Linked DNA regions of Homo sapiens: all the other regions are linked to region 1. The links come from fine-mapping of genetic effects on gene expression. A gene starts in region 1. Each other region holds a variant in brackets. All regions are shown on one strand. Distances are between the middles of the regions.

Region 1 (2,754 bases):
AAAACAAAAAGGAAGTGGAAACACTGGCTCAGCTCCACAATGAGTTGCCGCAGACGGCAAGAGCCTGTGGCACAGACTGGACTCCGAGAAGGGGACCGCGACTGTGTCCTCCCCGTGGTCCTCAAACGTCGCCCAGGCCAGGTTCCTCTTAATGGGACCGACACAGAAGCTGCACGTCCGCGGGCGCATGGCCGGAAACCCTGCAGCTGTCAGCGAACCCCTGGTGCTGGGCGCCCACGCCCAGGTGTCCCACGGCCAGACACTGGTGGCATCAACTCCTCCAGAGGCCCTGAGGGAACCCTGGGATGGACCCTCAGGCGAACACTGTCCCTCTAAAGAGAAGACACAAATGTGACTTCCCCAGCTGTCCCCAATACTGTTTACAAAACATCCTCACGCTGTTAAGATGGGGGCTTTATTTCCATTGAAATCTCTGGCATTTAAACTTGGGATGGAACCCGGAGGCGGCGTCCATCAAGGAGGAACAACCCCAAGGCGCATGCAGGACGGGCCTGGGAGCTCCCGGGAGCAAGGGAGCTGGGGGGTCTGGGGGCCTGGGAGGTTGGGGGGTCTGGGGGGTTGGGGGGTCTGAGGGGTTGGGGGTATATGGGGGGTTGGGGGATCTGGGGGTTTTGGGGGGTCTGAGGGGTTGGAAGGGTCTGCGGAGGTTGGGGGGGGCCGCGACACCTGCAGCGCCCCCCCACCCTGCGCGCTGGCCCAGCTAGGAGAGGGCCCGGGGACACCGACAGGATTGAAGCCTTTGATGAGCGGACGGACGTCCCCAGTTCCTTCGGGGAGCTCCTTTAAACATGTTTGCCGAAAGCTGCGGGCGCCGCGGGACGCACAGAGCTGTCTTTTCTCCGAGGGTGGCTCAGAGGCAGAGCCCCGGAAAAACCCACGCGCCCGGCCTGTGGGGCAGCGACGCCGCCCAGACCCCGGGGCCGCCGAGACTCACGGGGGAGCGTCCTGAGACCGCAGAGCCCTGACCCGTCCGAGAGGCGAAGCCCCGGGAGCCCTCTGGGTCCGAGCCGTCCCAGTCCCGCACCCAAGGCAGGGTCTCTCCCGCCGCGCTCCGACACCGGCCGCCGAGGTCCCAGCACTGGCGCCGGCCGCGGACCTGGGGCGCATTTGGCGGCGGCTCGCGAGGCGCTCGGGGCGCTCCGTGGGTCTGGAGGGCGCTGGCCCCGCGCGCCCGCGGCCAAACCTGGTGCAGCCGCGCCGCCTTCTCCGATGAAGCCGAAGCCGCCCCGGCCGCCCCCAAACGCTCCGCCTCCGCCTCCGCCTAAACCGGCGGAACGCTAAGGACGCCGACGCTTGTGCGGTCGCCCGGGAGACCCCGACGACGCCCCGCCCCGTCTCCCGGCAACGCCAAGCAGCCGGCGCGCGAGGAATCCGGGGGAATGTAGTCCCTCCGTGTCAGGGACCCGAGACATGCGCTGGTTCTTCTAGGACTACATTTCCCAGGGCGCTTCGCGCCCCGCCCCGGCGCCCCACCCACGGCCGCGCGCGATGGTACCACCAGGCGAGGGCGGCTCTCGCGCGGGCCGCCGGGAGTTGTAGTTTTCTTTGGGAGCTGCGGGGCCTGGCGCCGGGGCCGGGGCGGAAGAAAGACTACAAGTCCCAGGGGGCGCGGCGCCACCGCCTGAGGGCGGGGTGTACGAAAGAGAAACCCGGAGGGCGCCGGGGTGAGTGAGGGGCTGGGGGCAGGCGTGAGGGTAGCGGGTTGGGGCGCTGGGGTCCGTCTGGGCGGCCGGGTCGGCGCAGGGAGTGCGAGAGGCAGACAAAGGTCGGCGGCCCTGGCCCGGCCCGAGGGACGTTCCCTGCGCGTCCCCCATTGTGCGGCGCGCGGAGGAGCCGCCAGCGCCTGGGCCCGCGTCCTCGTCGCCGCCTCCCAACGAGCCTGGCCGCGGTCCTATGGGGGAAAGGCGCCCGGGCTGAGCGGGACGCCTGGGGAGGGGAAGGGGCGTCTGAGGAGGGCAGGGGGACCCCGGGGAGGGGTGGGGAGGGGGTCCCTAAGGAGGGGAGGGGGTTCCCGGAGCGGGGAGGGGGGGTCCCTGGGGAGGGGAAAGGTTCCCGGGGCAGGGAAGGGGGTCCCTGGGGAGGGGAGGGGGTCCCTGGGGAGGGAGGGGGGTCCCTGGGGAGGGGAAGGGTTCCCGGGGCAGGGAAGGGGGTCCCTGGGGAGGGGAGGGGGTCTCTGGGGGAGAGGGGGCACCTGGGGAGGGGAGGGGGTTCTCGGGGCAGGGAGGGGGTCCCTGGGGAGGGGATGGGACGGGCGCCCGGGGGAAGAAAGGGGGCGCGTTCGCCTCGCCTTCCCGGCAGCCGGGAGTGGGGGCACCGGCGCGGTCCCCGGTGTCCTAGAAGTCGGCCACGATTCAGGTCTTTTTCCCGCGAGGCTTTAGGATTTGTTTTTGTCCGTTTGTCACCTGGAGTAGCCGAGGGCTAGTCGGGGTGCAGTTTTTCGGGAGCGCGTGTTCCGGTGGCAGCGAGTCGATGATTGAGTTTGGGTGTAATTTAAGCCCAGGTGTTCGGGGGCATTTCTTACCGCGTTTCAAAGCAAACGCGGCTTCTTCCCCGGGAACTATTTTGTGGCTGAATTCTTAGCCGCCTCGTCCTGTTAAATTTCAGGATGTCAAACTTGGCCTCCTTTTTTTGGTTTTCATTTTTCTTAGTATTACCAGGGTGTGCAGAGAAGGCAGAGCTGCGTCTTCCTCTTTTATTTTTCCGTAAGTTACTGGGGTACAGGTGGTGTTTGGT
Region 2 (2,754 bases), 35 kb after region 1:
TCGCCTGTCTCTGACCCGTTTCAGTACGGAAGCCGCGCTACGTCAGGCGGGAGCGGCCCCTGGACAGGGCCACGGATCCCGCTGCCTTCCCGGGGGAGGCCCGTATCAGCAATGTCTGACCTGGAGGCCGAGACCACGCCACGCACTTGGCGGCAGGGACCCGGAGGCCGACCCCTTGGCGGGAACCAGCACAAAGTGTTGGCATCGCCCGGCGCCCGGGACAGTCCTGGGCACAGCCTCGGCTCTGAGTCCCTCCGCCTCCCAGCGACGGACGCCAAAGGGTCCCGGGCCGCCTGAGGCTCCTCCCCACCACAGCCATCTCGTTTATCGGACCAGGAGCAGGCATCCATGAGACCTCAGAGCTTCAGATCGAGGCCTTGGGGGGTCCGGGCCCCCCCAGGAAACACGGTGAGGCCCCAGCGCCTGCAGCCAAAGCTGGCACGATCTATGGGGCAGGTGCCGCTCTGCCTAGAAAAGCCAGGGGCTCTGCTGCCGTGCCCTCCAGAGCCCACAGCGGGCAGGACTCCTCCAGCACCACCACACCCAGTGGCCCGAGACCCCTCTGAGAACAGTGAGGCTGGTCCTCGTGCCGTTCCAGCCGGTGCCCGGCCAGTGGGGAGGACACAGCCTAGGAACCAGCTGCCTGAGACCAGGGTGCCTCTGGGCTGTCCTCCCGCGTGGCGGAGACCCCAAGCACGCAGCCACCCATTTCCGGAGCTGCAGGATAGAGCTTCCTCTTGATCTCTGTTTTTAAGCAGAAATTCATTGTGCAGAAAAGTCCTCCAGAGCTCTGTGGCCCCGCTCGGATCCGCTGGACCCCCATGCCTGGCTGATCCCTGCCCACGTGGGGCAGGCCCACATCTAACCCCCACAAGTCACTGCCTCACTGCACCTGCCAAGGCTGCCCTGGCGCTGAGTCCTGGGGTCCCTCCCGGAGTTCCTGGGAGAAAGGCGCCGTCGTGGCCGCCTCCCGCACGCCAGGCCCGGGCTCCACCGTGGGTCTCAGACGCCCTGCGGCACCGGCACCGTCTGCTTTAGCATGGGACCCCCCTCTGAGGGGTGGCCTGGCCTTCGGGGTCCCCACGCTCCTTTGCGAAGTCCACTGTGGGTGCCATCATGGTCTCCGGGACCTGGGCCAGCGGGAACGTGGGGGCACTGGGTGTGCTGATATAAAG[T/C]CGGCATTACTCAAGCTGCGTTCCGAGCTGCTCTCTCCCGTAGGATGCTCTGTTCTCTAAGTGCAGGTCGGGGAGCAAAGCCCCCGCCAGGCTGGCCCCACGCACTCCGCCACCGTGTGCTGGGGGCAAGGAGGTGGGACGGGGGTGGAGGAGAGTCCAGGTTGGGGCTGCCTGGTTGGGACCCCCCGCCCCGCGCCGCACATTTTCTGCCACAGGCCCATTCCCCAGATGCAACCTGTGCAGGTGGGACCTGTGGTCCCCGAACCCCCAGCTCGGAGTGAGGTGGGACAGAGTGTGGGTGTGCGTTTCCATCGGCCGGCCGGGCTGCGTGGGGGCTGCAGACACGGGCCCCGGGAGGGCTGCCATGGCCATCTGGGGGGGCAGCAGTGTGGGGGTGTTTGCTGACAGTGATGGGCCTGGCCAGAGAGGGCTGAGCTGGGGCAGGACAGGCCTTGAGGGCAGAGGGCCCGGGCACCAGGATGCCAGAGCGCGGGCCCTGCTCTCGTAACCGTGCCCTCCACCCAGGCAGAAACGTCCACTGCCTGGAGGGTCGTGTCCTTAGACACCTGCATCCCTGTCCCCAAAAACCCCCAGCCTGAGGTTTGCAGCCAGGGAGTATCTGGGGGAGCATTGGCTCTGCCCTGGGCCCTGGCCCAAGAAGTGTCCTGGGGCTGGGAGGGTCACTGGTCCTGGGGAGAAAGGGAGGGACTGGACAGCCCAAGGCCACTCTGAGCCCAGTACCCACCGCCCCACCTGATGCCCTGGGCCACGCCCCTGTGACGCGGGAGCCCCCAGACTCCTCCTGTGGGGAAGGAGACAGGGACCGAGATGGGAGCAGAGGGAAGGAGACAGGGACCGAGGTGGGGGCGGAGGGAAGGAGACAGGGACCGAGGTGGGGGCGGAGGGAAGGAGACAGGGACCGAGGTGGGGGCGGAGGGAAGGAGACAGGGACCGAGGTGGGGGCGGAGGGAAGGAGACAGGGACCGAGGTGGGGGCGGAGGGAAGGAGACAGGGACCGAGGTGGGGGCGGAGGGAAGGAGACAGGGACCGAGGTGGGGGCGGAGGGAAGGAGACAGGGACCGAGGTGGGGGCGGAGGGAAGGAGACAGGGACCGAGGTGGGGGCGGAGGGAAGGAGACAGGGACCGAGGTGGGGGCGGAGGGAAGGAGACAGGGACCGAGGTGGGGGTGGAGGGAAGGAGTCCACATCCCCCTGGAAACTCCACTCCTGCATTTGCACCAGGCTGGGCGTCTGGTTTGGAGGATAAAATCGGAAACAGGCACGAACAGCAGGTCCAGCCAGGCAGGGTCTGGAGGCCAGGCCAGACACAGACAGGCACCTCCCAGCCCACCCTCTGAGCAGCCCCCCAGGCCCCATCTCTCAATTCTGGGTCCCCTCCTCCTCCTCCCACCCAGTGGCCCAAACCAAAAACCCAGGGTCATCCTGACACCTCCACATATCCCCCTCAGCTGGCTCCCCACGTCCCCCACCTGCGCACTCGCGATTGGCCCTTGGGCAGCACGTGGTCAGCCAGGACCTGTGGCAGCGAGGGGCACGCCCTCCTCACTGGGCACAGGAGG
Region 3 (2,754 bases), 21 kb after region 1:
AGGCTGAGGTGGGAGGATGGCCTGGGCCTGGGAGACTGAGGCTGTGGTGAGCTGAGGTCACACCACTTTGCTCCAGCCTGGGTGACAGAGTGAGGCCATGTCTCAAAATAATAGGAGACTATGATGAACAATTTTAGGCCAGTAAATGTAGCAATTTCAATGCAATGGATAAACTCTTGGAAGAATATAACTTGTCAAAAGCAATGGAAATCTGCATGGTCCTCTTTCTGTTCAGGAAATTGAATTAATTACCGGAGAACCTACCTACCAAGAAAACTCCTGCAAATATACATGGTTTCCTGGTGAATTCTATCAAACATTCAAAGAAGAAATCACAATATTCTTACACAAACTCTTTCAGAAAATAAAAGAGGAGGGGGAACGGGTGCTGTGGCTCCCACGTGTAATCCCAGCACTTTGGGAGGCTGAGGCAGGAGGATCACCTGAGGCCAGGAGTTCGAGACCAGCCTGGACAATATAGTGAGACCCTGTGTACAAAAAAAATTATACCTGTAGCCCCAGCTACTTGGGAGGCTGAGGTGGGAGGATCCCTTGATCCCAGGAGCTCAAGGCGGCAGTGAGCCATGATCGCACCACTACACTCCAGCCTGGCAACAGAGTGAGACCCTGTCTCTCTTTAAAAAAAGGAGGGCCTATTTCCCAGCTTGTTTTATGAGGCAATATAATCCAATACCAAAACCTGACAAAGACACCTAAAAAAAATTATAGACCACTATCCTTCATGAACACAGGCAAAAATCCTTACGAAGGTATTGGCAGGTGAAATCCAACAATAGCCTAAGAGGGCAGTACACCTCGGCCAAGTGTGGTTTATCCTAGTGATACAAGGTTGTTTTGATTCATAAATGAATCTTTGTCGTCACCATATTACTAGAATAAAGAAGGAAAGGATGATCACTGAAATAGATGCAGAAAAGACATTTGGAAACATTTATACCTGTTTTATGATTTTTTTAAAAAAACCTCAGTAAACTAAGAATAGAAGGAAACTCCCTGAGTCTGATAAATGAACATCTATGAAAAACCTACACTAGACGTTGTACTTTTGATGGCGAAATATTGAGCATTTTATCCCTAAAATCAAGAACAAGGATGACACCCATTCTCACTCTTCTGTCCAACATTATACTCAAAGTCCCAGCCAC[T/C]GCAATAAGGTAAGAAAAAAGGCAAATTGAAGTCACAAGGATTAGAAAGGAAGAAGTAAACTGTATTTATTTGTAGATGACATGATTATTTATGCAGAGGGTCCTAAGAAAGCTACAGAGAATTGCTAGAACTATTAAGTGAATTTAGCAAGATTTCAGATATCAAGGCTAAGGTGCAAAGTTTATCGTTATATAGTAGCAGCAAACTATCGGAACATGAAATCAGAAATTACATTCTATTTGTAATAACAAAAAGTAAAATCTTAGTAATTATCTTAACAAAAGATATACAAGACCTGTTCACTGAAAACTATAAACACTGCTGAGATAAATTGAAGAAGATGCGGAGGGATGAAGAGAGACAGCATGTCCGTGATGAAAAGACTCAATCCTGTTAAAACATCGGCTCTGCCAGTCAAAATCGCAGCAGGCTTTTTTGTAGGAATTGACACAATGAGTCTAAAATGGAAACACATGTGACCTGGAATTGCCAAAGCAATTAATCAAAGTGGAGCTGATACGTGCCCTGATTTCAAAGTTTCTATTCTACTTACAGCTTCAGTAATCCAGTCAGCCGCAGTGTCCCTGAAGAATAGACACACAGGTGAGTGGAACAGAATAGAAAGACTGGAAATAGACCCCACCTCTATAGTCCATTGATTTTCAATGAAGATGTCAACGTAATTCCACATGGAAAGAAAAGTCTTTTTAGCAACTGTTTATACATAAGGAAAGAAATGACGCTTGACCTGCATTTCACCATACACAAAGGTGACTCAGAATGCAAAAGCTAAAACTGTAACACTTCTGGAAGAAAGCAGTAAATCTTAGTGACCATGAGGTCAAGGCAGAGATTTCTTAGGACATAAAAAACAAGAACCACAAAAGGAAAAATGGATGCATTCAATTTTATTAAAAATTTCATTAAAATTAAAAACATTTGCTCTTCAAAAGATGTCCATAAAAAAATGATAAGACGGGGGCCGGGCAAGGTGGCTCATGCCTGTAATCCTAGCACTTTGGGAGGCCAAGGCAGGCGGATCACAAAGTCAGGAGATCGAGACCATCCTGGCCAACATGGTGCAACCCCGTCTCTACTAAAAATACAAAAAATTAGCCGGGCGTGGTGGCGGGCACCTGTAGTCCCAGCTACTCAGGAGGCTGAGGCAGGAGAATGGTGTGAACCCAGAAGGCGGGGCTTGCAGTGAACTGAGATCACGCCACTGCACTCCAGCCTGGGCGACAGAGACTCCAATTCAAAAAAAAAAAGATGATAAGACAAACCACAGGATGGAAGAAAATATTTGCAATACATAAGTCTGATGAAGAATATGTGTTTTAGCTGAGCGTGGTGGTGACGCACACCTCTAGTCTCAGCTACTCGAGAGGCTGAGGTAGGAGGATCACTTAAGCCCCGGAGGTCAACATGGCAGCATGCACCTGTAGTCTCAGCTACTCGGGAGGCTGATGTAGGAGTATCGCGTAAGCCCTGGAGGTCAAGGCTGCAGTGAGCCACGATCCCACTACTGCACTCCAGCCTGGGCAACAGAGTGAAACCCTATGCCCCCCACCCCTGCCAAAAAAAAAA

What was found.
Region 2: its variant is fine-mapped to the expression of C1orf159 in whole blood (TOPMed, PIP above 0.99).
Region 3: its variant is fine-mapped to the expression of C1orf159 in whole blood (TOPMed, PIP above 0.99). The same link has a PIP of 0.9 or more in thyroid.

The regions. Positions count from the first base shown.
Region 1 is chr1:1,114,991-1,117,744 of GRCh38, reverse strand. It overlaps C1orf159 (chromosome 1 open reading frame 159), which reads left to right and starts at 1,656. Exons shown (of 10, transcript NM_017891.5): 1 at 1,656-1,685. RefSeq lists silencers at 986-1,035, 1,076-1,195, 1,366-1,965.
Region 2 is chr1:1,080,258-1,083,011 of GRCh38, reverse strand. C1orf159 (chromosome 1 open reading frame 159) reads left to right here. Exons shown (of 10, transcript NM_017891.5): 10 at 25-1,189. The coding sequence ends at 119. Among named protein-coding and RNA genes, the nearest start is that of RNF223, 7.3 kb to the right of the region's middle. RefSeq lists silencers at 912-1,091, 2,721-2,754 and enhancers at 1,109-1,810, 1,811-2,513. The variant T/C (reference allele first, on the strand shown) is at 1,176.
Region 3 is chr1:1,094,093-1,096,846 of GRCh38, reverse strand. All of the region lies in intron 1 of C1orf159 (chromosome 1 open reading frame 159), which reads left to right. Among named protein-coding and RNA genes, the nearest start is that of C1orf159, 21 kb to the left of the region's middle. The variant T/C (reference allele first, on the strand shown) is at 1,167.